4 linked regions of the Homo sapiens genome follow. The protein of the gene in region 1 purifies or fractionates together with the protein of each later gene. This does not show direct contact. Each region holds a gene or a part of one and is shown in the gene's direction. Other genes may lie near its edges. The genes, in order: CT55, LRBA, BLTP3B and NOPCHAP1.

What was found.
Region 2: the proteins of CT55 (region 1) and LRBA purify together in Homo sapiens (affinity purification with mass spectrometry; 3 studies listed by BioGRID and IntAct, with this or other methods). This does not show direct contact.
Region 3: the proteins of CT55 (region 1) and BLTP3B purify together in Homo sapiens (affinity purification with mass spectrometry; 3 studies listed by BioGRID and IntAct, with this or other methods). This does not show direct contact.
Region 4: the proteins of CT55 (region 1) and NOPCHAP1 purify together in Homo sapiens (affinity purification with mass spectrometry; 3 studies listed by BioGRID and IntAct, with this or other methods). This does not show direct contact.

What each region holds. Positions count from the first base shown.
Region 1 is NC_000023.11:135,155,832-135,161,973, reverse strand, and holds the end of CT55 (cancer/testis antigen 55), read left to right. Parts: intron 1-1,418; coding exon 1,419-1,563; intron 1,564-3,662; coding exon 3,663-3,775; intron 3,776-4,470; coding exon 4,471-4,658; coding exon of another isoform or gene 4,659-4,662; exon of another isoform or gene 4,663-4,945; coding exon 4,946-5,015; 3' UTR 5,016-5,434; downstream 5,435-6,142. UniProt on the Homo sapiens protein: Plays a role in spermatogenesis, possibly acting in the regulation of the autophagy pathway.
Region 2 is NC_000004.12:150,263,779-150,270,911, reverse strand, and holds the end of LRBA (lipopolysaccharide-responsive and beige-like anchor protein), read left to right. Parts: intron 1-5,099; coding exon 5,100-5,190; 3' UTR 5,191-6,477; downstream 6,478-7,133. UniProt on the Homo sapiens protein: Involved in coupling signal transduction and vesicle trafficking to enable polarized secretion and/or membrane deposition of immune effector molecules. Involved in phagophore growth during mitophagy by regulating ATG9A trafficking to mitochondria.
Region 3 is NC_000012.12:100,139,740-100,147,766, reverse strand, and holds the start of BLTP3B (bridge-like lipid transfer protein family member 3B), read left to right. Parts: upstream 1-4,892; 5' UTR 4,893-5,131; coding exon 5,132-5,175; intron 5,176-6,001; exon of another isoform or gene 6,002-6,096; intron 6,097-8,027. UniProt on the Homo sapiens protein: Tube-forming lipid transport protein which mediates the transfer of lipids between membranes at organelle contact sites. Required for retrograde traffic of vesicle clusters in the early endocytic pathway to the Golgi complex.
Region 4 is NC_000012.12:104,981,294-104,989,315, forward strand, and holds the start of NOPCHAP1 (NOP protein chaperone 1), read left to right. Parts: upstream 1-5,022; 5' UTR 5,023-5,059; coding exon 5,060-5,174; intron 5,175-6,873; coding exon 6,874-6,960; intron 6,961-8,022. UniProt on the Homo sapiens protein: Client-loading PAQosome/R2TP complex cofactor that selects NOP58 to promote box C/D small nucleolar ribonucleoprotein (snoRNP) assembly. Acts as a bridge between NOP58 and the R2TP complex via RUVBL1:RUVBL2.

The sequences.
Region 1 (6,142 bases):
ATATGTCTGTGAGTTGGCGTGGAGTCAAGGAACAGAGAGGTCCGAGGGTGCTGTGGATCATCCACTGGGATACTGACGGAAGTGGTGATAGATATGTGGATGGGAGGCTAATGCCTCATTCCTTCATGACAGTAAGTGAGGGGATAATAAACATCAGATTGGTATTGACAGCTGGAAAGACACCAGTTTAGAAATGAGAATAGCAGCAAACTAGGCTATTTTTAAAACCATGAAAAATTCTTTACAACTCAGTGGCTCAAGTTTCCATCAGAAGTCTCTGCTCAGCAAATGCCAACCCTAGGATTTTATCCTATAGTTAAGTCAGGCAAGTAGTCCAAATGCTATGACACAAGTGAAATGTCTAATTATGTGAAATTGGGTTAGTAAATTACGGCACATCCATTAATTGGGATTCCCTATGACTCTTTCCGTCCTCTCTTGTTATTTAAAAACTTTTGTGTTCATTTAATGTGATACTTTAACACTGAATACCATGCTAATTTGCTTTTAAAACAGGCATTTACACATGTATATATATTTGTGCACAGACAAAAACATCAGGATGAGTGTTACTGCCAAAAATGTAGTCCCTGGTGATCTCTTGGTAATGAATTATGGATTGTGGGGTAACTGCTTTTTGCTGTCTGCTTATCTGTTTTCTTTCCTACTTTTAGTATAACAAGCTTACACTATTTTTGTAAGTTTTAAGGATTATAAAATAAGGACTATTACACTTCCAACAAGGGAAAAGGTTTGTATGCCTCTCTATTGTAGATAAAGTAAAGCCCTAATTTGACTTGGTTTTTCGAACCTCCCCCAGTTGAGGTTATTGCTCCAACTTTATCTCATGCTTCTGTCTCCTAGGCCTGGATCTCGGATGTTAGGGTTTTGCTCCCTAGGCTCCTAACTTCTGTTGTTTTTTCTCTCTGCCTCCCTGCTCCTTTACCCCGTCTTCTTTCCCAACCCAGCACAAATCTGACTTCCCCTAAACAATGCTTCTATTTTCTCCCTGTCTGAAATGTTCTCCCTCTAGATAATTCACAGAAACCATCTTTGAACTAGTTTTATATCCTTCATCGCAACCTGCTTATGACTATATACCTTTCCACTTTACCGTCATTTCACTGTGAATTTCTGCAGGCGAAGGACGGTATTATTTTAATCTTGGAATCTAATGGTACAAGGACATTAAACTTGGGTATGCAATTAATGTTTTGGGATACATTTCACAATTCTTGAAGCACGCACATGACTTTTACTGTCATCTCAAGTCAATGGTCCACTTACCAAGTGAACTATATTCTCCAGTGTTTAGGATGGCTGTTGAAAATATTTTTGAATACAAGTCTTTTAATCATGTAAGTTCCATGTTTAAATTTGTATTGTTTTTGAAGTAAACTCTTTCCTAAATCTTACAGGTGGATGTTGTGCCTCGCCATCTTTATGGTGCTGGACCCTCAGACTCAGGAACCAGAGTTTTAATTGGATGTGTTACTTCTATAAATGAAGATAATATTTATATTAGTAACAGCATTTATTTTTCCATAGCCATTGTTTCTGAAGGTATGATTTATATTTTGAAATATATGATGTAATTCTTAATTTTTTGAGAGGATTTTAGTCCTGGAACAACTTTTACAGTGTACTTGGCTTCAGTCAATGGCTCTTCAGTGTTAGAGGTAGACTGTTCCAATCGAAATTAAGTACAGTATAGGGGCAAATAGACAGTATTATAAATTGTGTGCTGTTGGTTATTGTGTGTTCATTTGTTCAATGCCCTCAGTAATGCCTGGATATACTATTCATTCATATGAGAATTTAATTTCTAATCAAGAAAACAATCCTACAAGTGCATAGAGACACTATTTTTAATACCCTTCAAAGACTATACTTGCAGGCATCATTTCTGTAGTTGGTTACTAGAGAAGTTTCTGTGACAAGGTAGACTACCAAATTTTAAAAGAATACACTTCAAATGCTTCAAACTTAGGATTGGAGATAGCGCCTTGTGGTTGTCTGTTTGTGTGTGTGTGTGTGTGTGTGTGTGTTGTTGTTGAATTCTCTTTGTAATCGGCAGATATATTCTAATATTTAGCTTCTACCCAACGATATTTTTTTGTCTGTTTTGTCTACTGCAGCTGTCGTATAGCTTGGGTATAAATGGAGAGATTAGCTCCGCTTCCCCAGGCAGCTTGCTAGTTTGTTTTCTTGGGTGCAAAAGCAGGATTCTGACCTGCATTTTGTTTGACGATGCTGACTCTGTCTGCTTTGTTGAGAAGAGACTATGAGGGGAAGGGTGGAGTCAGGAAATCAGTCAGGAAAACGTTGTAATATTCCTGGTGAGAGATGATGGAGATGTGAATGAAAATGGAGAAGTGGAAAACCTGAGGATTGAGTTGACTCTGGATATATTTTGAAGTGAGAGAAGAACCCAGGAGGTAATGGATTAGATCTTTGTTGTGGAGGGAAAATGAGTCTAAGGTACCTCCAAAGTTTTTGATTTGAGCAGTTGTGAGAGTGGAGTTGCCAGTTTGTGATGTAGACGACTGAGGCAAACAAAAGTTGGTGAATATGGAGAATACCAACAACTCAGCTTTACACACGTTAGATTGGTGTAAGCATATGGATAATTGACCCTGAGGTTGGTTAGAACTGGAGGCATATACATTTTGGAGTTATAAGCATATAGATATATGTCAAATCCACACAAAAGAAATGTATGTAAATTATCAGAGAGAGAGAGAGAGAGAGAGAGAGAGAGAGAGAACAGGTCTAACACAGTGTCTTATGTCATTCTACAGTGTTGGGTCCTAAGGTGAAGAAATGTTTAACTTTGTTGATATCACTAGTTTTCATTGTGGCAATTTACTGTCTCAGTTGCAGTTGGGATTTCCACTTGCTCCAGATTCTTTCACGTAACTTTGTTATCCTGTGACTCACTTTTAACTTATTGCAAACTTCTGTTTGAAACTTGATGGTCTTAACTGTAACCTGTAAGGCACATACTTAAGAGTTCATTAGTTGAACACAACACCAGGGGAAATTGATTCATTCTGAAAGTAACAACATTTCCTAGCGGTACTGCTACCACTACTACCAATCAACAGTTATTTGGTGGTTGCTATGCGCCAGCGATGATTCTGTGCGTATCACACATATCAACTAATTCTCAAGGCAGCTGTGTACCATGAAGGCTACTTACTGTGCTTCTCATTTTATAGATGAAGAAATCGAGGCACAGACAGATTAACCACCTTGGCTAAGGTTGCCAACTGAGTGAGTGGCAGTGTCAAGATTCGAAGCCACATAGCCAGGTTCAAACTTGTGCTCTTACCTATATGTTTGACTGCCTCTCACTAAGCAATTGTGAACACTAACAGTTGTTTAGTAAATCCTGTGCTGCTCCCTCATATTGGCTGTGATGCATGCTTCACACTTTCCTCCATTTAAATTTGTTAAATCAGTAGAGGAGAATCAATGCCTAAGGATTATAAACTTCTTTTTGGACTTAGAGATTTGTAGTGTCTGTTTAAATATGCACAAAATGGACTTTAGATTTAGCAGAACTGACTTTAAAGTAGTACACTATCAAATAACATGTGAAATTAAAAGTGACCTAGTTAAGAGATCATGACACTCACATTTCTCCATGGCTGTTTTAGATTTTGTGCCTTATAAGGGTGACTTGTTAGAAGTTGAATATTCCACTGAGCCAGGCATCTCAAACATCAAGGCAACTTCTGTGAAGCCCATCCGTTGTATTCATACGGAAGAGGTAATTTCTTTCCTGTTGCTCCCGTCAGCAGTTTCTGCTAACTCTTCCTTTGGTGATAATTTACGTGACCAGGATTCTGTTGGGTATAATGGGAATTCCAGAAAATATGAAGAAATACATTCTTTGCCAACAAAGGAGCCACTTTTCTTATTGAAAAGGCAGAATTTTCCAAAGGAAATAATTAGAAAATTATATAGAACAAGCACATGATTAAGTTCTAAATTGTGCATTTTACTCGATACCCAAATGTTATTAGAATCTTCCAAGGACAGGAGGAAGAAAAACAATCTTTGTGCCAGAAAACTATAGGGAAAGAATGAACGGAGTGTGTTGTGGGACTTGAGCTGACCAGTAGATGCTAAGAATGATTTGGTTATTAAAGCCTGAATATGCACAGGCAATTCAAGGCAACAGAGGGTAATGGACATATTTTGGTAATATTTAGAGCAGGATTTCTCATCAGAGACCCAGGCCTCATTCCCAGAGAGTCTGATTTAATTGGTCTGAGGTGGAGCGTGGACATGGGTATCCTTACAAAGCACCCCTGGTGTTAGCAATGGGCCAACCAGGTTGGAAATCAATGATTTGCATCGAAGTGACCTGCACTCATGCAGGACCCAGGGTGAGGAGGTGCAAAGCTGGTTACAGTGCTTATTGGGCTTTTCCATAATCATTTCCATTATTTATACTCACAGGTCTGCATTACTAGCGTACATGGAAGAAATGGGGTGATAGATTATACTATTTTTTTCACCTTGGATTCTGTGAAACTTCCTGATGGATACGTACCTCAAGTAGATGATATCGTCAATGTGGTCATGGTGGAGAGCATTCAGTTCTGCTTTATTTGGAGAGCGATTTCTATCACCCCAGTGCATAAATCGTAATGACAAAGCATTTTTATTCTGTTTATCTTTCCTTTTATGAGCAGTAAAGGGGCTGGTTTAACTTAAAAGGTTAGCTTAGTAAGCCTAAATAGTATTTTATATATGACTTTTCTGGCAAATCTAATTGAGACACTGGCCAGTCCAACTGGACCAGGAACCCAGCTTAGGGAAATAACTTATTAATTAAAAAGCATGCTAAATTAGCTTGCTAGTCACTGGAGGAAAGGAGTTCTTAATTAAAATGAACACGGCCATTAAATTTGAATTCCATATTTCCCATTAGCAGCAGCGGATTCCAGGATGACGGAGGCCTGGGACGGCCCAAAAGGGAACGTCGGAGCCAAAGCATTTAACTGAAAAGGCATCAGGGACAGCATGTTAAAGGCATGATTTAAAGTTACAATTTGACTTCAGTTTTGAGCCCCGTTATGCTGCCTGTACAACCTGTATTGTTCCATAGCCTCTTTCATCTTCTGTCACCCACATAACTTGCGGTGTTTGTTGTTTTACTTGTTCCTTCTTCCCCATGCTAGAATGTAAACTCCACAATGGCAGGATGTCTTTTAATCTGGTTTTTTTTTTTCTTTTTTCTTTCTTTTTTTTTTTCTGTTGTCATTAAAGCATCACCAAGCACTTAGAAGAGTGCCTGGCAGACTCAATGAGCAGATAAAATGTTATTAAGTTCAATGACTGAATGACTGGGCCAGCAATGATACTTACCTGTGGTTCATTCATCACTGGTTCCTTAGGAATAAAATTGTTGAGCAATGCACTAAGACCTCTCTGTTGATTTTTAAACAACACCAACAACCATAGAAAGTCGACTCTGCTGTACATGAGCCTCTGTGAGCCACTTTGTTGCAGGGGTGCAGCTCATGTGAAGTCACGAAGAAACGTACAAACACAGAGCCCCTTGAGGGAAGGACAAGCTGCTTACCCACTGGGAAAGGTTATACTAAAATCCCACAAGTAAACTCCAGGAAACTTCATGCTTTCTTCTAATAGAATATTTAACCAGGTAGCTGTGACCTAGGGGAAGGGATATATTCAGACCTTTGGGCATAGCTTGAGTGTCGTTGTAAACTTACCCTGAGTCCTGTGATTCATAATTCCACCATTACCACCGGTCCTTGAATAAACAGAGTTGTGTTTTGACTTTCCACTACAGATCCAGTGAGACCTCTCAGTTATCCAGGGATTTGTTTCCCGCTTGATAGAAACAGTGAAGGTCTTGTAAAGTTCCCATTTTCACTCACTGGTTCACTCCACAAAATCCTACTGATTCTCTTTGATGTGCCAGGCACTGTTGAGGCTCTAGAGTTATATCCTTAACCAAAAGGACAAAATTCCAGGCCCTAATGGAATTGTGTTCTTTCAATGCCCCAACCCCACCCCCCCGGCACCCCCACCGTCCTCGGCTTCCTGACCCATGCAGCAGTAGCTCCTATGATTGAAAGGGGTAAGTGGGAGCTGTGGCAAC
Region 2 (7,133 bases), on another chromosome or scaffold:
GAAGAAGTATCATCATCTTTATCAGTAAATAAAATTGAAAGAGCTGTAAAGATGTTTAATGTAAAATGCCTTTATCTCTGCATATCTCTGCATATGGAGAGTCCCCTGAAAGATAGGGCTTATTTCCTAAAAGCTCTCAAGTGGTAGATTTTGGGGGGATCATCTTTATCTGGCACCTTATTTCCTCTTAACGTATAGTCACTCATTTTTGTTCCTTTTAAAAAAAATTGTGGCAACATATAATATTTTCCATCTAAACTCTTTTCGATATATAATTTAGTGGCATTATGTACATTTACAGTGTTGTGCCACCATCACCATCATCCATTTCCAGACCCTTTTCATCATAAACAGAAGCTCTGCATGTTAATGACTCTCTCTCCCACCAGCTCATGTGCATGCTACTTTCTGTCTCTATGAATTTGCCTCTTCTAAGCACCTTCTGTTAAGTGGAATCATACAATATTTGTTGTGTTGTGCCTGGCTTATTTCACTTGGCATAACACTTTCAAGGTTCTTGCATGTCGTAGCACGTATCAGAATATTATATGAATATTCTGTGTTCTGTTTATCGTTCACCTGTTGATGATGGACACTTGGGTTGTTTCTACCTTTTGGCTATGGTGAGTAATGCTGCTATGAACATTATCATACAAATATCTATTCAAGTCCCTTTTTACAGTCCTTTTGGGTGTATGCCCAGGAGTGGAATTGCTGGGTTATATGGCAATTCCGTTTGACTTTTTGAGGAAACCCTAAAGTGTTTTCCACAGTGGCTGTACCATTTTACATGGGTTCCAATTTCTCCACATCCTTATCAACACCTTGCTCTATTTTTTAACAGTTGTCCTAACAGGCGTGGTCTCTCATTGTGGTTTTGATTTCCCTAATGATCAGTGATGTTGTCTTTTCACTCTCTTCCTAATATCCTTAGATGCTCAAAAGATTTTACTTTTTGTTTGTTTTTTGAGACAGGGTCTCACTCTTTTGCCCAGACTGGAGTGCAGTGGCACAATCACAGCTCACTGAAGCCTCAACCTCCTGGGCTCAAATGATTCTCCCGCCTCAGCTACATGGTAGCTGGTACTCCAGGCATGTGCCACCATGCCCAGCTTTTTTATTTTCTGTAGAGACAGGGTCTCACTATGTTGCCCAGGCTGGTCTTAAACTCCTGGGCTCAAACAAACAATCCTGCTGACTCAGCCACCCAAAGGGATGGGATTATAGCCATAAGCCACTATACCTAGCCCTGATTTTACATTTTATGAAGTCCTATTTTTTGTTATGAGTTTGTTTTGTTATCTTGTCTCTTTTGTTTTGATATCATATCCAAGAAGCCACTGCAAAATCCAAGGTCATGAAGGTTTTCCCATATGTTTTCATCTAAAAGTTTTATAGTTTTAATTTGTATTTAGGTTTTTGATCTGTTTTTAGTTTTTTAATATAATGGTAGGTAAGAGTCCACCTTCATTGTTTTGCATGTGGACATCCTATTTTCCCAGCATAATTTGTTGAAAAGAAGGTGCTTTCTCCGTTGAAAGGTCTTGGCACCCTATTTGAGCACATATGTGAGGGATTATTTCTCAACTTTCTCTTCTGTTGGTCTGCCTATATCAGTGTGACAATGTTTTGATTACTGTCGCATTGTAACAACAGTAAGTAAGTTTTCAAATCAGAAAATGTGCAACTGCTAACATATTTCTTCTTTTTCAAGATTGTTTTGGCTGTTAGGGGTTTCTGTTTCGCTCTGTCACCCAGGCTGGAGTGCAATGGCATGATCTCGGCTCACTGCAATTCTTAATTTTCCTTTTGGACTGCTCATTGTTTGTTAGTGTATAAAAATGCAACTGATTTTCGTGTTGTATATCCTGCAAATTTGCTGAATTCATTTATTAGCTCTTTTGTTTTGTTTTGGTGTGGAATTTTTAGGATTTCCTACATACAAGATCATGTCATCTGTAAACAGAGACAGTTTCACTCCTCCTTTCCAATTTGGATACTTTTTTCTTGTGTAATTGCTCTGTCTAGGACTTTCAGTACTGTTGGATAAGAGTGATTAAAGTGGGCATCCTTGCCTTGTTCCCAATCATAGGGGAAAAACTTTTTTTCATCGAGTGTGGTGTTAGCTGTGAGTTATTCATACATGCTGTTTATCATTTGAGGTAGTTTCCTTCTACTCCTATTGTTTTCATAATAAAAGGATGATGAATTTTGTCACATGTCAAATTTTCCAGCATCAGTTGAGATGATCATGTGGGCTTGTTTTGTTGTTTGTTCTGTTAATGTAGTATGTTATATGTTGGTTGACTTTTGCATGGTGAGTCATCCTTGCATTCCCAGAATGAATCCCACTGGGTCATGGTGTACATTCCCACTACCATGCTAGTGAATTCAGTTTGCTAGTATTTTGTATCCTGGTCTGTGTGTTCTTTTGTTGTAATGTCTTCAACTGGCTTTGGTGTCATGGTAATACTGGCCTTATTGAATCACTTAGGAAGTGTTCTGGATTCTTTAATTTTTTGGAAGAAGAAATTGAGAAGGATTGGTGTTAATACTTCTTTAAATGTTTGGTAGAATTCATCAGTGAAGCCATCTTGTCTAGGACTTTTCTTATTGGGAGGTTTTTGATTACTGATTCAATCTCTTCACTTGTCATAAGTCTAATCATTTCTATTTCTTCATTCAGTTTTGGTATACTGTTTTCAGGAATTTGTCTATTTCATCTAGGTTGCCCTATTTGTTGGTATACAGTTGTTTCTAATAGTCTCTCTGAACTCAGTTTCTGCCAAATCAGTAATGTCCCAACTTTTATTTCTGATTTTAGTAATTTGAGTCATTTTTTTTTTTTTTTTGAGATGGAGTCTCACTCTATCACCCAGGCTGGAGTGCAATGGTGCAATCTCAGCTCACTGCAACCTCTGCTTCCCAGGTTCAAGTGATTCTCCTGCCTCAGCCTTCCAAGTAGCTGGGATTACAGGTGCCCACTACCACGCCCAGTTAATTTTTGTATTTTTAGTAGAGACGAGGTTTCCCCGGGTTGGCCAGGCTGGTCTCGAACTCCTGACCCCAGGTGATCCACCCACCTTGGCCTCCCAAAGTGCTGGGATTACAGGCATGATCCACCATGCCCAGCCAAGTCATCTTAGTCTAGCTAGAGGTTTGTCAATTTTGTTATTTTTTCAAAGAACCAATTTTTGGGTTTTTTCCTATCAATCATTTTACTATTTTCTGCTTTATTTCTCTCTACTCTGTTCTTTATTATTTTCTTCCTTCTGCCTAGCCTGGGGTTTTGTCTGTTTTCTAGTTCCTTAAGAGGTAAAGTTAGGTTATTGATTTGAGATATTTTTAAATCTATGTGTTTACAGCTAAAAATTTCCATTTTAGCATTGCTTTTGCTGCATTTCATAAGTTTTGGCTTGTTGTATTTCCTTTTCATTTGTCTCAGTATTTTCTGATGTCTCTTATGTTGTTGTTTGTTTTTTTTGACTCATCATTTATTTACTTTCCACATATTTGTGAATTTTCTAGTTTACCTTCAGTTATTGGTACCTAGTTTCATTCTATTATGATCAGAAAAGCTACTTTGTGATTTTAATCTTTACTAAGTCATTAACACTTGTGGCCTAACATATGGTTTATCTTGGAGACTATTCCATGCGCACTGCAAAAAAATGTATATTCTATTGTTGTTGGGAAGGTGTTCTATATACGTGTGTCAGGTCCAGTTGGCTTATCGTATTGTTCAAGTGTCCTGTTTCCTTATCTTCCACCTGGTTGTTCCACCCATTATTGAAAGTGGGGTATTGACGTCTAAAACTATTACTGTAGAACCATTTCTCCCTTCAATTCTGTTAATATTTGCTCTTTGTATCTTGGGGGTCTGATGATAAATGCATATATAATTGTTATATTTCTGTGAATTTACCCTTTTCTCAGTGTAGTGTCCTTTGTCTCTTGTAACAGTTTTTGACTGAAAGACTATTTTGTCTGATATTAGTGTAAGCCACCTCAGCTCTCTTTGCTAGTACTTACACGGAATATCTTTTCCATCCTTTCACTTTCAAGATGTTTGTCTTTAGATCTCAAGTGGGTCTCCTGTAGACAGCATATAGTTGGATCATGTTTTTTATCCATTCTGCCAATCTCTTCCTTTTGGCTGGAGAATTTAATCTCTTTAATGACTGATAAGGAAAGACTGACTTTTGCCACTTTTCTATTTAATTTTCTCTCTGCCTTAGAGTTTTGTCTCTCATTTCCTCCTTACTGTCTTCCTTTGTTTTTAGTTGATTTTTTTTGTAGTGACACATTTTAGTTCCTAATTAATTTTGATACGAGGTACTAGGAAGGATACTGAATATGGCTTCTAAGGGCTGGTCCTAACCAAACTACACAGAGAAAAATCTGGCTATGCTCAGTTTAGGTTCACCTATGTTCTCCATCTCTTTCCCTGCACCACCTCTTTGGGGACAGGAGACCAAGAAGCTTGCAGAAGTTCTTATCTTCAGTGATTTCGGTGAGTTACTGTGTTACGAGGACTAGGTCCTCACCCAGAGCATGATGGACATAGACTACTTCTCCACAGAGGGGAGACCAGCTTAAATTATGGTCAACAACACTCTTCTTTTTCACTCTTCATTGATTCTGTACCTGTCAGAGGTGGTGTCTCTTGTCACTTGAGTGTGTGCTGCTTCTTTCCACCAGCAGTTACTTTGAGATTGTGGTTCCTTCTTTTGAGTCTGTTGCTTATATAATGGATGGGTCTTGCCAGCCCAGTCCCCCTTTAGAAATTACCAAATCTGTTCAGATTTTAGTTACAAATCTGTTCAGATTTTAGTTACTCATCCTGCACATACCAGCTGTCCGTACCCTTTCAATGAAAAAGCAAGCTGTGGCTTGGATCCTTGTGGAGTGTCAGAGGCAGTACTCTGAGCTTACTCAGGGATACATTTTAGTCATGAAATACATACCTTAGTTCCCACAAATTGGAGCCTTCACTGCCAGCTTCTATATTTACCTTGTGGATTTGGGGAGAGCAGTTTTTAGTAACATCTCTAGGACACACAGGTTTGTAAAAGTCCTTCTCTCTGTGCTTCTCCTAGGTGCATCATTTCTGGCATGGCTTCAGGAAGCATTGTGCTATTTTACAACGACTTTAACCGGTGGCATCATGAATACCAAACCCGCTACTGATGGTGACAGCTGTACATCAACTCTGCCCCTAGGATGAGCAGAAGTACCTGGAGCATCATTCTCTTCTACCACATCTGAATGTAACTTAAATTTGCTCAAAGAAGCAAAATATTTTTTAAAGTTATTAATAATTGCTATTTTTGTAGTCTTTGCTTGACTTTTTTGGGGGGGATTAGCAAAGCAGAAAACTGGCTGCTGGGTTCTGTAGTTTTAAAAAATCTATATTTTTAGTCATAATGAGAAGTCTATTTTCACCAATTATGGAAACATACAGTGGAGCAAGTAAACCACTTATTCCAGCTATAATATTATGAAGAACATTTCCCATGCATCTACAAGCTTGAGAAATAGGATTTTCACAGTGGGGAAGTGGGTTACAATATTGGAATAGGAAAATTTGATGCTGTAATTTGGGTCCTGTATTTTTCCAAACAACTGTGCTTCTTCAGCACTAATATTTCTGGGATTTAAATAGTAATGTTTAAATTATGGTAAATGTAATTTAAAACATCTCAATTAAGTCTGTCTATCAATATTGTTCTTCAAGCATGTTTTAGACCTAGAAAAGTATGGTTTGGGGGAGGCTATTTTATTGTGTGGTTAGCACAAGGAATCTAATTTATAGCAAGTGTGAAATAGTTACCATTTTTTCCTGATCTGTCATCTTCATAGCACAACAAAACGAAATGATGGAAATGCTCTTGAGCTCACAACATTTGTTTTTCTTTTAAAGTAAATGCAAGTACCAAAGCTCACTACTGCGGTTTGCCTGTGCCTGGACAATGAGGCGGAGCCACTGTTGTTTTGTTGGGGCACCCCCTTCCCTCCCCGGGTTTGCAAATAGAGGCTACCGGGTGCTGTATTCAGCAACACCTGTTTTACTATTTGTTATTAAACTATCATCTCCACCTTCCTTTTGATTAGCAATTTGTACTAAGAAACGAAACAATGTTATTTGGTGGTGTATAATTCTACTTTTCTAGTAGATTACTGTGTGGAATTCTGTGAAAAATATTTGAGAAAAGGCCTGTATTGCATAAATAAATTCTTTGTATGTTGTGAACTTTGATCTCTATTTCTCTTGCAACAGACTTCAAGTGGTCCCTCTTTTTTTCCTACACACTCAGCTCTTCTCTAAAAGCAAGGATTTGGAATGAACAATTCAGTTTGACAGAAAAAGCTGAATAAAATGGCATCTGTAATTGAATTGTTGGAAATGCCTTTTTTGCTCCTAAATTTTAAACATCATTAATAAAATAATGATTCACAAAGAAAGAAAATGTCAAACTCTGATTCAGTCCTAGTTTTTGATCAATAACCAATGTGAGAGATCCTCCTGACTGAAAACAGGAAAATGAGCTTTCTTTGGCCAGATCTCTCCTCTTTCTTACTGAGACTCACACAAATGACCTAGACCTGAATCTTACAAATGCCTAGCAAGGAACTTTATGTACCACTTCATCTGAGATCCATCATTAAGAAAATAAATAGACGACGGTGAAATGTGGGGGAGGGAAAGTACATTTTAGAATCAAAGAAATACCCAAGTTGCTGATAAATTAATTAACTGATGAACATCTTCACTGTTTGTTTGTTAATGTCCTCATTAACTTGTGAATATTACTCTTTGAAAACTTCTTAAGTGAACAATGGTAAAAGAAAATACCAATACCTAAGTCGTGCCACACAAATGATACTTCAACCACCCTATGCTTAACAAGCCTAAAGCAAAGCTCCTCTTGAAACCTAAAAGGAAAAAAAAATCAGTATCTCCACTACCTTTATTGTTTTAAAAACTTACGACTAACGAAAATTAATTGAAACATAAGTTGGCCGGGTGCATTGGCTCACGCCTGTAATCCCAGCACTTTAGGAGGCCGAGGCAGGCGGATCACTTGAGGTCAGGAGTTCGAGACAAGCCTGGCTAACATGGGGAAACCCTG
Region 3 (8,027 bases), on another chromosome or scaffold:
GCGTACCTGTAGTCCCAGCTACTCGGGAGGCTGAGGCAGAAGAATTGCTTGAACCCAGAGGCAGAGGTTGCAGTGAGCTAAGATCGCACTACTGTGCTCCAGCCTGGGCAATAGAGTGAGACTCCATCTCAAAAATATATATATATATTGGTTTGGCCAGGCGCGGTGGCTCACGCCTGTAATCCCAGCACTTTGGGAGGCCGAGGCAGGTAGATCACAAGGTCAGGAGATTGAGACCATCCTAGCCAACATGGTGAAACCCTGTCTCTACTAAAAATACAAAAATTAGCTGGGTGTAGTGGTATGCGCCTGTAGTCCCAGCTACCTAGGAGGCTGAGGCAGAAGAATCGCTTGAACCCAGGAGGCAGAGGTTGCAGTAAGCTGAGATTGCGCCACTGCACTCCAGCCTGGCGACAGAGCAAGACTCCATCTCGAAAAAATGAAATACATTGGTTTGGTCCAGAAGGGCAAGACAAGTCAAAGGAGGGGAGCTTCCAGGCTATAGGTAAATTTAAACATTTTCTGGTTGACAATTGGTTGACTTTGTCTAAAGACCTGGATGATCTGGTTAAGATAAAAGATCGTGGAGACCAAAGTTCTTTTGAAGTCTTAATGTGGCTGCCCTTAGAGACAATAGATGACAAATGTTTCGTATTCAGACCTTTAAAAGGTGATAGACTCTTAGTTAATCTCTTCAGGATTGAGAGGGCCTGTAAGAAAAAAACCTAACTATGTTAATAGAGATTCTTTATAGATGCAAATTTTCCCCCACAAAGAATGGCTTTGCAGGACCATTTCAAAATATGGCAAAGAAACATGTTTTGGGGTAAAATATTTTGACTTTCTCCTTTGTCACTGATAAAACAGGATGAGGTAAAGAAGCTGGCCAAAACCCATCAAAACCAAGATGGTCATGAAAGCAACCTCTGGTCATCCTCACTGCTCATTAAACACTAATTATAATATATTTGCATACTAAAGGAAACTCCCATCAGGGCCATGACAGTTTACAAATGCCATGGTAACATGGAGAAATTACCCTATATGATCTGAAAGGGGGAGGAACTCTCAGTTCCAGGAACTCCCTGCACCCTTACTAGAAAACTCATGAATATGTACCCTTTGTTTAGCATATAATCAAGAAATAACCATAAGTATAGTTGGGCAGCCCATGCTGCTACTCTGCTTATGGCGTAGCTATCCTTTTATTTCTTTACTTTCTTAACAAACTTGGTTTCACTTTACTCTTGTCAGCTTGGTCTTGAATTCTTTCCTGCAGAAGGCAGGAACCCAAGTAGCCTCCCAGCCTGAACCCCAATTTGGGGGTCACCCTACCACAACCAGCATAGCTAAATATCTGCAGAGTTCAGTTTTGATATGGACAGGAGACAGGGAAATACTGGGTAGAACAGAGTGGTTCCCTGGCAAATGCCCTACTCTCAAGCCTGGAAACCCACCGTCCTAAATGGGAACAGGCATTTCTGTTTTTGTGCTCAAAAGTTGCCTTTTGGCCTGCCACAGCACCCTATCTTGTATCCATAGAAAGCCCAAACCCCAGGCTCCACAAGCAGATGAGCAGACAAGGAGATGAACAGATGAGCAGAAGAATGGCAGACCAGTGCAGCAGAGACAAGAGAAGTAGTGACTGAACGCTGAGAAGAGTTTGGCCACTGGATGGCCAAATTCCAGGGGAAGATCATCTTCCCACTCCATCCCCTTTCCAGCTTCCCATCCATCCTGTTGAGAGCCACCTCTACCACTCAATAAAACCCCACATTCACCGTCCTTCAAGTCCCTGTGTGACCTCTTTCTGGATGCCTGACAATGACCTGGATACTAAGAGGGCACTGAGCTAGTTAACACTTAAGCTATCTGTGGACAACAAAGCTAAAAGAGTGCAGTGTAACGCATGCCCACTTGGGCTTCAGGAGTTGCAGTTACCCACCCCTAGACGCTACCATGGGGCCAGAGTTCAAAAGTCCTTGCTCCGGCTTCTGCACTTGCCCATCTGTGTGCTCCCTGTCCTATTAGGGGTTTGCATGTGCTCGGTAGCCAAGCAGATGAGCCACCCCCCTGTGTACTTCGTGCATTAGTGTTAGTCCTGCGAGTGAAGTCAGGGAACCCTCCTGCTTCAGTTTTAAATCCAAGTCTTTGATTTCAGGGTCCATTTTTTTAAAAAAATTAAATGGATTTATTCATATCTTTGAAATAATACCTCTACTATAAGTCTGTCCCCAAATGAATTACTCCTTCCTCTGTGTTCTTATAGCACTTTGCTTGTTTTTGGTAAAGTAATTAATAATACCTAGCCTTTATTGAGTTTGCTATAAGGCAGGTTAACAGTAGCTACTAATAATAATATCTCTTAACACATGAGATCACTGAAGCTGAGAAAGATTAATTTGCTGAAGTTTACACAGTTATAAAGTGGCCAGCATTTGAACCAGAGTCTACTAACAGAGCTGAAGGTGTAAGTAACATGAGTCTGCCTTCCAAGCCAGGCCGTTAACTCTGATGGCAGGAACAGAGATTTTTGTTTTCATTTAGGCAACCCCAGGATACTTGAATAGTGCCTGGTTTATAATCTATGATAAATGTTGAGTGTAGTCAGCTGGGTGTGGTGGCTGATGCCTGTAATCCCAACACTTTGGAAGGCTGAGGCGGGCGGATCACGTGAGGTCAGGAGTTCGAGACCAGCCTGGCCAACATGGTGAAACTCCGTCTCTACTAAAAATACAAAAATTAGCCTGGTAATCCCAGCTACTTGGGAGGCTGAGGCAGGAGAACTGATTGAACCTGGGAGGCGGAGGTCGCAGCGAGCCAAGATCGTGCTGCTGCATTCCAGCCTGAGCGATGGAGTAAGACTGTCTCAAAAATAAAATAAAAATAAAATGAAATGTTGAGTGTAGTCAACTTACACGTCTATCCTTTCCATTCTTCAAAAAGGGCCAGCTTATTGGACTATGTGTAAACTACTTCCCACCCAACTCCCAAGATGTACAACCACACATCTTGCTAATACATCCCTCAGGGGTGGTACAATTTCTTTTCCTGTTTTAGATATCACTAGTGTTAAAAGAAAAACTTCAGCCAAATTAAATTTAAAGGAGTTTAACAATGAACGATTCCTGAGTCTGGCAGCCCCCATAATCACAGCAGATTCAGAGAGACTCCAGCACAGCCACATGCTGGGAGCAGATTTCTGGCCAGCAAAAGGAAAGTGAGGTCTAGAAAATGGAAGTGAGGTACAGAAACAACTGGATTGCTTACAGCTCAGTGTTTGCCTTATTTGAACACAGTCTGAACAGTTGGCTACATCTGGCCAAAACTCAGTGATTGGCACAGGTGTGGGCTATGGTCGGTTTATACCTCTGCTTATTTTCATAAGTTCATGATGTACAGAAAAACCTTTAGGCTGAACTCAATTACGTAAGGAGGCAGTGTTAGGCTAAACTTGACTTAACACTGAGTAATTTTTTTTTTTTTTGAGACAGTCTTGCTCTGTCGCCCAGGCTGGAGTGCAGTGGCTTGATCTCAGCTCACTGCAACATTTGCCTCCCGGGTTCAAGCAATTCTCCTGCCTCAGCCTCCTGAGTAGCTGGGATTACAGGCGCCCGCCACTATGCCCAGCTAATTTTTGTATTTTTTTTTTGTAGACACAGAGTTTCACCATGTTGGTCAGGCTGGTCTTGAACTCCTGACCTCAAGTGATCTGCCTGCCTCGGCCTCCCAAAGTGCTGGGATGACAGAAGTCGTCATTTTAATCTCTGAAAATGTTAGCTCTGTTTGGGATTGGGTGGGGTGGAGGTGTAGAATTGTAACAGTTTTCCCTAGTTCAACAATTTCCTTCCTTCCTTACAGAACTTTTCATATGATATTTACACCTTTAGGTTCAACCTAGTGAAGTGGGTAAGGCTGATGATTAATCTATTTCACAGATGATTAAAATGAAACTAATAGTAAAGAAATTATTTTCCCCAGGATAACACAGCTAGAAAATACCAGAGCCAGGACTTGAATTATACACCTTCTAATTCCTAGGTCCTAGACTACTAGGAACCATTGTCAACCTTTACTTCCCTTAGAATAGCAATAACCAAAGGAAACATTAAATTGCCACATTTAGGTAAGGGAAAGGCAGGACACCTTAACAAAAGAAAAAAAAAAAACACCAAAAACAAAAACCTAAGGAAGAATATGAAGAAAGGTGAGTAGGTCAAGAGAGCAAAGCAAGCACAGGAGTTAATGGCCGATTCTTAAAACATTCTAAGGAGGCCGGGTGCAGTGGCTCACGCCTGTAATGTCAGCACTTTGGGAGGCTAGGAGGGTGGATCACGAGGTGAGAAGTTCGAGACCTACTGGCCAATATGGTGAAACCTCGTCTCTAATAATACAAAAATTAGCCGGCCGTGGTGGTGCGCACCTGTAATCCCAGCTACTCAGGAGGCTGAAGCAGGAGAATCGCTTGAACCCTGGAGGTGGAGGTTGCAATGAGCCGAGATCGTACCACTGGACTCCAGCCTGTGTGACAGAGCAAGACTTGTCTCAAAAAAAAAAACAAACAAGCAAAAAAATAAAAAACATTCTGAGGAAATGAATAAGGGAAGTAGGACGTGGAAGTAAAAATCAGCGACGGGTCAGCGATGGAGGCGGGAACACCAGCAGAGGGAAGGAGGGAGGATTAAGGCCAAGAAGGATGGTGTATTGAGAGTCAAGGGCCCTGTGTCGCGAGGGCTAAGAACCCTGGCGCCAATGCCACAAACCTCCCGCCCCCGCCCAGAGCCCAGCCAGAGCCCAGCCAGAGCCCGCCCAGAGCCCGCCCAGAGCCGGCGTTGGCCCCGCCCCGCCTCGTGCCGGCCCCGCCTGGAGCCGCCCCGCCCCCGCCCTCCACCGAGTCTCTTAGGTGATGCTGCAGCCAAGATGGCGCCCGCGGCGGCCGTGGCGGCCTGAGCGTGATGCTCCGGGTTCTCGGCGGCGGCTGTGGCCTTGGCCGGGGCCTTGGGTCTCTCCCGGTCGTGAGCGATCAGCGCCTCTCCGCCGGCCGGGCTAGCCGGGACAGAGAGGAGACGGCCACGAAGAGAGGAGGCAGTGAGCAACAGGACGAGACCGCGGCGTCTCCAGCCTCGGTACCATGGCCGGGATCATCAAGAAACAAATCTTGAAGCACCTCTCCAGGTCAGTGAGCGCCTCGGTGTCGGCGCCAGTCGGCCTCCACCCCAGCCCGCACTGGAGTCAGCCTGCGGCTTCGGGGGCGGCGGCGCCTGGCGGCTGTGCGGGAGGCGACCTTCGGACTTCCCCGCTCTGGCCGGGGCAGAGGTCGCGGCCCCGGATCTCTTGTCGCCGGCGGCGCCGGGGGCTGGCCTCACGAATCGGCCCCTGACGCGTCTTCTCCCAGGGTGGGCGCGCGGAGGAGCCCGGAGTGCGGAGCGCGGCGGGCTGGGATCGCTCCCGGCGCGGCGTCTGGGGGCGTCCCGGCTCGGCTCTGTGCGGTACTGAGCGGAGGCTGGAGGTGGCCTGGCGTCACCCAAGTGCCTGGTTAATGTGCTGGGCTCTAACTCGAGTTCGGTGCTCCTTCCCCTTGGAGCAGAGCGGTTCCGTTAACCGAGGGCTTCTGGCGCAGTGTGGACGCTCAGTGGAGGCTGTGTTCTCAGTGGAACGTTAACCTTGTGATTGTTCTGAATTCCTCCCACCTTGGCGTTCCCGCTCTGTGGCATCAGAGGGTGTGCCTGTTTGCACAGTTAGGATTTGTTTTAGGTAAATAAGCAGAGTTCGCAGCTTTGGCAGGTTCTTTCTGGAGTCCTATGAGACCCACATCATTATTACTGAACATTTTTTTTTTTTGGTTTTTGCTCTTTTTCCTCTGCAACTCTAAAATTCAGGGAGTTAACATCTGTGGTGATTAAACCCAAGACATGTCATTCTCTCCATTTCATAACGCGGTTTTAGTCAGAAACATGACTCAGTAAGGCTGGCAGTTTGTTACTGCTCTTGGCTTCTCCGTGTTTGTCTCAAGACACAGGCTAAATGTAGGCTCTTGTTCCAAGTTGTTACCAGCGAACTCAAAGCCCTTGGTTAGGATCCCTTTCTGTTCGATTTGTAAGTTAATTTTAACTAATTTTGGGAAGACACGGGTATGATTATAGACTTGTATAGTAAACATAATTCTTGATTCCCCAGATTGTCTTATACCACAGGTTATATATTGGGAACAGAATTCTACTTCTGTGATTCAGCAAATATTTTCCTCACTTATAATACTGAATAAGATATAGCACTTTTCTTAAAAGTAGCAAAGTATAGCAGCGTGTGTGTGTGTGTGTACATATATATACATATGTACATATATACATATACATATATACACATATATACACATACATATATATGTGTACTACATATATATGTGTATACACTACACATATATATGTGTATATATGTAGTATTTTTTTAGTAGAGACTGGGTTTCACCAGGCCAGGCTGGTCTTGAACTCCCAACCTCAGGTGATCCGCGGTCCTCGGCCTCCCAGAGTGCTGGGATTACAGGTGTGAGCCCCCACGCCCTGCATGAATATGTATTTCTTAATGTTATCACTCATTGAAAAGTTTCTTTTAAAATTATATATATGGCCCAATCTTGAACTATCTTATTTTGGAAGGTTTTATCTATTTTTAATTTATGTCCTCCCGCCTTTCTCATACCCAGCTCCACAAGAAAATACAGATCTGCAGAAAATGATTTGAATGCCTACTTTCTCACTCGTCCAAGGATGATGCTGCATAGCTAGTACCACTCTAGATGCTTGGAAGAAAAGTTAATTCAATCAACAGATAGTGCATTAGAGTTTAATTCTTTTATAGAACTCCATTTGAGAGGGGCTCTTAAAAATTAAGAGCATGCATACCAAAGTATAATAAAAAAAATTAAGAACAAAGATGTAATGGCTTACTGCATGAGATAGAAAACACCCATATATTGAAAATTGAGTCTTTAGGGCTAGTTTTTATTTTATTTTATATATATATATATATATATATATTTTTTTTTTTTTTTTTTTTTTTTTTGAGACAGAGTCTCACTCTGTTTCCCAGACTGGAGTGCAATGGCATGATCTCGGCTCACGGCAGCCTCTGCCTCCTGGCTTCAATCAGTTCTCCTGCCTCAGCCTCCCGAGTAGCTGGGATTACAGGCATGCGCCACCACGCCTGGCTAATTTTGTATTTTTAGTAGAGACAGGGTTTTTCCATGGTGGTTAGGCTGGTCTCAAACTCCCAACCTCAGGTGATCCGCCTGCCTTGGCCTCCCAAAGTGCTGGGATTACAGGTGTGAGCCACCGTGCCTGGCCCTTAGGGTTAGTTTCTAAATCTGTATGATTTGTAATAGCTGTGTGATAAATAGTGTGATGAGGATTTTTTTTTTTTTCAGAGATGAGTTTTTGGGACACTTGAGTTTTCAGTTATTTCATATTTCAAAACATCCTTAACTCAGGTGACTAAAGAGTATCAAATTTTTATTTTTGGTTAATAAGTTAATCTTACTGCTAATTGCTGTCATCTCCTAAGAAAAATAGTTATTCAGAAATCTAAAGGCAGCTCGTAATTGACAAAAGAAGGCAGGTGTTGTGATAAATTATAGTTACTCAGGAAGGAATGAACTTTTGAAATTACCTGGTTCAAGTTTAATTTTATAGAATATCCAGTAATGAAGATGTCACTACATTGACCTAGTGGTCTGGGATACAGTAGAATATAGTTTACCAGGAAATAGTTGAACATACTAGTTTCTAATACTAGACATCATGTGAGGCCTGTGTATGCAACCCATTGCACCTTCTCAAAGGTGACCTTTCCTGACCACAGAGTTTAAAATTGTGAGCCCCCATATTGCCAGTCCTCTTGCTTGCATTATTTTTCTCCATAGCACTCATGCTTGTCTGTCGTACATATTTATTTCTTTATGTATTTTTGTCTTTCTCCACTTAAATGTAGACTCTATGAGAGCAGGGATTTTTGTCTTGAGGCTGGCATAA
Region 4 (8,022 bases), on another chromosome or scaffold:
TGTAAGAGGTGGGACCTTTAGGAGGTGATTAGGTCATGAAGGTAGAACCCTTATGAATGAGATGATGCCCTTATAAAGCTGCCTTGTCCCTTCTACCATGTGAGAATGCAGCAAGAAGGGGCCCTCTATGAATCAGAGTGTGAGCCCTCACCAGAAACCAAATCTCCTAGTACTTTGGTCTTGCACTTTCCAGCCTCTAGAACTGTGAGAAATACATTTCTTTTATTTATAAGCTACCCAGTTTATGGCATTTTGTTATAGCAGCCCAAATGGAGGAAGACACCAATTTACATCTAATGTCATTACTGAAATGAGTATCGCTTACCTGTACTATGACATTGTTTTCTATTTGTCCCAAATGTTCTTTGTTCCTCTTTATTTTTTATGTTGCTTTCTTTTGGATTAATTGAATGTATTTTATGGCACCATTTTTTTTTTGGAAACGGAGTCTCACTCTGCTGCCCAGGCTGGAGTACAGTGGCATGATCTCGGCTCACTGCAACCTCCACCTCCCAGGTTCAAGCAATTCTCCTGCCTCAGCCTCCCAAGTAGCTGGGACTACAGGTGCATGCCACCAGGCCCAGCTAATTTTTTATGTTTTTAGTAGAAACAGGGTTTCACCATGTTGCCCAGGCTGGTCTCGAATTCCTGAGCTCAGATAATCCGCCCACCTCGGCCTCCCAAAGTGCTAGTATACAGGCGTGAGCCACTGCGCCCGGCCTATGGCTCCATTTTATCTTCACTATTGGCTGATTAGATATCGGTCTTTTTAATTTTTTTTGTAGTTGCTCTAGTATTTACAATATAAAATTTTAACTTATCACCATCTATTTTCAAACCCTACTAAAAACACTTCACATAAAATATAAGATCCTTACAACATTTATTTCCATTTACCACCTCCATTTTCTGTGCTATTCTTGCCATACTTTTTGCTTCTATATTTGTTATAAACCCCACGATACATATTTTTTTGCTTTAAACACTCAATTATCTTTTAAAGAGATTAGAAGTAGAGAAACTATGTTTTATATTTACCTTCATATTTTACAAAACTGCTCTTTTGGTTAACAACATAATTTTCTGGAAGGGAGACTAAATTCTGCCAGTGCATTTTCTACACTATCTTGGAAAGATCTGAATGTCTTCATTTCTAAGCTATTCTTACAAACTAGCAGTGTTGACATAGTTTGGATGTGTGTCCCTGCCCAAATCTTATGTTGAAATGTAATCCCCAGTATTAGAGGTGGGGCCTGGTAAGAGGTGATTGGGTTATGGGGGTGGATTTCTCATGAATGGTTTCGTACCGTCCTCACGATACTGAGTGTGGCAACTTGCTCACTCTCTCTCTCTCTTTTTTTTTTTTTTTTTTAAGATGAAGTCTCACTGTGTTGCCCAGCCTGGAGTGCAGTGGCATGATCTCGGCTCACTGCAACCTCTTCATCCCTGACTCAAGTGATCCTCCTGCTTCAGCCTCCCAAGTAGCTGGGATTACAGGCACCTGCCACCATGCCTGGCTAATTTTTGTGTTTTTCATAGAGACGGGGTTTCACCATGTTGGCCAGGCTGGTCTCGAACTCCTGAACTCAGGTGATCCACCCACCTTGGCCTCCCAAAGTGCTGGGATTACAGGTGTGAGCCACCACGCCTGGCCACCTTGCTCAGTCTTCCTTGCTCCTGCTCTGGCCATGTGATGTGCCTGCTCCCCCTTTGCCTTCTACCATGACTGTTGGTTTCCTGAAGCCCCCACCAAGAAGCTTAGCAGATGCTAGCATCATGTTTCCTGTACAATCTGCAGAATGGTGAGCCAATTAAACCACTTTTATTTATACATTTCCCAGTCTTGGCTATTTCCTTATAGCAATGCAAGAACAGGCTAATACAAATGCCCCACTCATTTTGTATGGCGCTGCACCTGTGGGGTACTTCAGATCTCAACCAACCATTCACAAAAGTGATTTGAGGAAATTTCCAGTGTCTAGAATCCAGGTTTGTTGAGGTGGTCAATCAATCAAACAGTTAATTAACAATTATACATTTGTTCATCTTCTTTTTGTTCTTTCATTCATCAAACACAGATTAATCATTAACTGTGTACCTATTACAAGCTCAGTGCTGGGAATGCAAAGGATCTCTAGATTTAATAGGTTTTAACTGGAAGTAGGAAGATAGTGAAATAACTTTTAAAATGCATTAATCAGTTTTTTTTTTTTTTTTTTTTTTTCTGAGATGGAGTCTCGCTCTGTTGCCCAGGCTGGACTGCAGTGGCGTGATCTCGGCTCACTGCAAGCTCCACCTCCTGGGTTCATGCCATTCTCCTACCTCAGCCTCCCGAGTAGCTGGGACTACAGACGCCCACCACCGCGCCCGGCTAATTTTTTGTATTTTTAGTAGAGACGGGGTTTCACCCTGTTAGCCAGTATGGTCTTGATCTCCTGACCTCGTGATCCGCCCGCCTCAGCCTCCCAAAGTGCTGGGATTCCAGGAATGAGCCACCGCACCAGGCCCATTAATCAGTGTTTTCTTCCTCAGTGCCTACTGTTATTTCTGTCATAATTCTTTGTGGCCTAGCTTTTGTAACTTCGTATAATATAGTGTTAATTTATTATGATGAACATAATAATGCTGCTACCAGTGAGATGGTATTATACCTCGACCTTGACCCCCTTCATGGGCAGGAACTGGAATGGCTCATTTCACTTAGCCTGCTGCTTGTCACTCCTCACAAGAGGGAGCGTGCAAGTGAGTGCAGGACCCAGAGCGAAAATACGAATGCTGGAACTCACCGGTCACTCCTCTCTGGTGAGAGCAGGCTGTGTGTGGGCTCTGGAGCAATGTCCCAGCCCCTGCCCTCATGGGTTCTTGTCTGCTGTCCAGAAAGAATCAGGTCACATGAACGGACTGAAGGGTAGTATATGTGGAGGATTTTATTGGGCAATGGATGTGGCTCTCAGTGGAATGGGGAATAGGAAAGGGGATGGTGGGGGAAGAAGGTGATCTTTCCCTGAAGTCGCACCATCTGAAGTTGGCCGCAGCTATCTGTAGTCTCTTCTTGTATCCCCAACACTTAGCCATTCATATTGCTCTGTCAGCTGGTCCTTTTATGGGCGCAGGATATGGGAATGGCAGGCTAAAAAGGCAACATTTGGGCGAAAAATGGGGTCAGCTATTGTCACTTAGGGCCACAGTTCCATGCTTTAGAGTGGGGTTTAGCTGGGAGCCCAATAATTCTGTATCACCAGTGCCATTACATACATTTTACTCCTTTTCCTCTTTTATTCCTTATAACATCCCCATGAAGTATTATTATCCTGATTCTGCAGAGAAGGACAGACGCTCAGGGAGTGATCTGCCCAAAGTCACAGCTACTAAATGAATAATATGACACTGGATTTAATCCACTCCAGGCTGATTCTGGAGCCTCTGCACTGTCAGAAATAAGCAGAAAAGATTGGTCCAAGGTTTCTGCTGCTTCTGCTTTGAATCCTATATAAGAGGGGTCTGGGCATACTGCAGGTGGTCAATAAAGACTGTTAAAAGAACAAACAGGAAAGGAAGCAATAGAGTGAAAAGGCAACCTACAGAATGGGAGAAAATATTTGTAAATCATATATCCGATAAAGGGTTAATATCCAGAATATATAAATAACTCCTACAACTCAACAACAAAAACACAAATAACCAGATTAAAAAATGGGTAAAGGAGTTGAATAGTCATTTCTCCAAAGAAGATATATAAATGGCCAACAAGCCCATGAAAAGGTGTTCAGCATCACTAAATCATTAGAGAAATGCAAACCAAAACTTCAAGATATCACTTCACACTCACTGGGATGCTCACTGTCAAAAAGAAAGAAGCAACCAAACAGAAAAAGGAAATATTGACAAGGATGTGGAGAAATTGGAACTCTTGTGCACTGTGGGAATGTAAAATGGTGCAGCCACTATGAAAAACTATACGGAGGCTTCACAAAAACCTAAAAAGTAGAATTACCCTATTATCCAGTAATCCCATGTCTGGGTATGTATCCCAAAGCATTGAAAAGCAGGGTCTCTAAGAGATATTTGTACCACCATGTTCATTGCAGCAGCGTTCACAATGACCACGAGGTGGAAGCAACCAGCACGCCTGTTGAGAGATCAATGGTAAGAAAATGTGGTATATACATACAATGGCATATTATTCAGGCTTAAAAAAGAAGAGAATCCTGTTATGTGCTACAACATGTCTAAACCTTGAGGGTATTATTTTAAGTGAAATTAGTAACAAAAAGGCAAGTACTGTATGATTCCACCTACATAATGTATCTGAAGTAGTCAAGCTCATAGTAACAGAAAGTAGAACGATGGTAGCTGGGCATGATGGCTCACGCCTGTAATCCCAGCACTTTGGGAGGCCAAGGTGGGTGGATCTCCCGAGGTCAGGAAATCAAGATCAGCCCGGCCAACATGGTGAAAACCCGTCTCTATACAAAAATACAAAAATTAGCCGGGCGTGGTAGTGTGCACCTGTAATCTTAGCTACTTGGGAGGCTGAGGCACCAGCCTGGGCGACAGAGCAAGGCTGTTTCAAAAAGAAAGAAACAAAGAAGAAAGTAGAATGGTGGTTACCAAGGGACTGGAGTAGGGGTAAATGGGTATAAGGTTTCAGTTTTGCAAGATGAAAATGATCTAGAGGTCTGCCACCACTGAATTGTACAACTAAAAATGGTTAAGATGGTAGATTTTGTTACGTGTTTTTTCACCAATTAAAAAAAAATTTAATAAAAAAGGATAAAGAGGAGGGAAGCCTAATGTTATGCTCTTTATGCCCGAATTTGGCGAAATCGAGCCTTGCCCGCTGTTTTTTCCTATGACAGTGTCTGAACCTTTCTTTTTCCCAGGAGTAGGAATGGCCCCTGCTCCCGCGCAGCCTCCAGGCTGCACCACGCTCGCCCCGCCTCTCTCTCCGCTCCTTACTCCGCCCACCGCAGTTTCCTCCAATCGCGGCCCTCTCCCCGCCCCCTTACCCGAGCCTTTTTCCTGCATCCGGGCCTGAGAGTGCAGGCTTGAGGGAAGCATGGAGGTCCATGGCAAGCCCAAGGCTAGCCCGAGTTGTTCGTCGCCCACCCGGGATTCCTCAGGAGTCCCAGTGTCCAAGGAGCTGCTGACGGCGGGAAGCGACGGCCGCGGAGGTGACGGACGGGTGACGGCGGCATGGGCCGCACACGTGCGGCAGAGGAGGCGCGGCCGGTGCAGTTTGGGAGCCGGCCGGTGGCTCCCTGCCCGGGCTCCGTACCCTCGAGGGGAGCCCCGGGGACTGCTGCGGGGCTCCGGCGTGCCCTGCCCGCGGCAGGGGTGGGGGCTTTGGGGCGGGCACCCGGCTGCGGGCCCGGAATGGTTTCCCCAGCTAGTGGTTCTTATATTCTGCAAGGTAGTGAGCGCCCACCCTGCCAGGCGCCGCTGCCAGGCATCTGCCCTGCCCTGGAAGCTGGGAAGCTCTCGAGTTCTTTTGGGGAAGGGAGGGCTTTTGGTTTGGCTGCCTGGGTCGGAGCAGTTGGCTGATAGGGGGAAGCGGAGTAATATTATGCTAACAGTCCCTACCTCTTTCACACCCACACAGACCACCCCTTAGTGCTGCTGTCTTGTAGAGGGAGACATGCATCCAGGAAATCCACACAGCATTTCAGACACTATAGGTAGAATTTAAAAGCACGAGTTCGAATCCCAGCTCCACTAGTAATTAACTGGTGGGACTTAGAGTTATTTTCATTCCCTAAGCCTCAGTTTTTGCATTTGGAAAATGGTGATAGTAGTAATGCCTGTAGAATTTTTGTGAGGAGGAGAATGCCTAAAAAGGCTTGGGCATGTTGTCAGTAAATACTAGCTTGAAGAAAAGGTTTTGTGAGAACCCAGAGATTCCGAAGGAAGTATAATAATGATAACCAAAGCTTATGTAGTCCTTACTATGTATGCCCCAGAAACTAACTCATCTAATCCTCACAACAACCCTTTGCAGAAAATCTGTTATCTCTGTTTTATAGTTGAGGAACCTGAGACATGATTTATCATACAGGTAATTTACCTTCTGGAGATCATGTGGCTAGAAAGTAGCAAAACTGGGACTTGAATTCAAGTAGTCTGGCTCCAGACTCTGTGCTCTGATCACGAATCCAGTAGGCCTTAAGTAGTAGGCATTCAATGGATGTTTGTTGCGGCTCTGCTTTGCAGGTGAACAGGATTTGTTTTTTAACCAGAGAGTTAAGGGATTTTCCGGGTATTAGAAATAGGGTGTGCAAAGCCTTGAGTTTTGTACGTTCCCCTCTTGGAACTCTGATGGGATAGAGAGTTGGGATGATTTGAGTAGTGAGAAATGAGGCTGGAAAGGTAGAGTGGGTGACAAAATCCCCAAAAGGCTGCTTTCCTTGGGTTGAACGTCTTCAGGGAAGGGGAAATACCAGGCAAGCATGTTTTACTAATGAAGAAACAAATGCTTGAAGATCAGGTAAGTTGCCCAGTGTTACACAACTAGTAACCATTTCTGGCTTCACTTAACCATTGTTATGCTCTGTACTGTTTCCTCCGTTCTGTCATTGCAGACCCACGTTTGTCTGCTAATGAATTTCTGATCCAGAAAAGTGCAGATTGGTGTGCATTTATTACCTGCCATTGGTGATAGAGGTGAATGAGACAGATGTAAGAAAGGAGAGGTGGCTGGCTGTACATAAAGAATTAAAATGTTGTAATGGAGCTTGGAGTTCTCCTTTAAAAAAAAAATTTTGGGGGAGTGTGGACAGTCAAGTCTTAAGACTGGTCATGTGAGAGGCTTACTGATGGGCCTTTGTTTTTTTATGCTGTAGTAAATTAAGGGTGTTTGTGTGTCTGTATTTTCAGGTATATGGGACAGGTTGCTCATCAACTCCCAACCTAAGTCCAGAAAGACCTCCACTCTTCAAACAGTTCGGATAGAGAGGAGTCCCTGTAAGTACCTCTTCCCCTCTCTCACCCTCTCTAATGCTGAGTTTTGTCTGATTAAGCTGTGGGACGGTCTCTGCCTTCATTGTCAGGTATCAAACCACAGATAGTCCAGTGGAACAAGTCCTACTTGGGATTTACATGATAAAGTCAGTACACAGAATGGAACTTCTTACATTATTTCTCTACTTTAAGAGGGTAACTTTTTCGTGAAAAATTGCTTGTGGGTTGAATTTTGGGAAGTCAAAAACAATTGTTAATCTCCATGGCAAATTTATTTAGAGGTTACTGAGCCTCAAACTTAATATATATGGATGGAAAACCACAACCACATCCCATTGAATTGGACACAATTATTTAAATGATAAATATTACTTAGAATACAGCATAATGGCCAGTTCTCTTTATTATTCTGTAGTATTGCTGTACTGCACATTCATAAGTATGTCCCACACTCAGACTTTATTACACGAATGCCCTCTATGTAATTCACTCTTAATATTAAAAAAAGGCAAAAATTCAATAAAAACAATGTAAATAAGCATGAAGGTAATGAAGGTATCACATCAATAAACTAAGAAATCATGAGTACTCTGAAAGGAGAATTTAACTGTAGCATCATTACTGTAGCACTAAATCTACAATAGCTGAAATGACCATATGGTGGCTGCCCATCCAAAAACCAGTTTTTGTGGATATAGGTTTTTGTTTTGAGGGATTACATACCTAGGAGTGGAATTGCGGGTATATAGAAGGTGTAATTTTTTTTTTTTTTTTACGAAGAAGAAATTGCTATTTTGCATTTCCACCAGCAAGGTATGAGAGTTTAGTTGCTGCACATCCTAACCAAAATGTGGTATGGCCTTTTTAATTTTAGCTGTTCTAGTGTGGATATAGTGGTATCGCGTTGTGATCTTAATTTGTTTCTAATGGCTAATAATGTTGAGCATCTTTTCATGTGTCACTATTTGTATGTCTTTGGTGAAGTGCCTATTCAAATCTTAAACACATTTAAAAAATCAGGTTTCTTATTGTAAACATCATTCTTGATAGTGCAGCTCTGCTGGA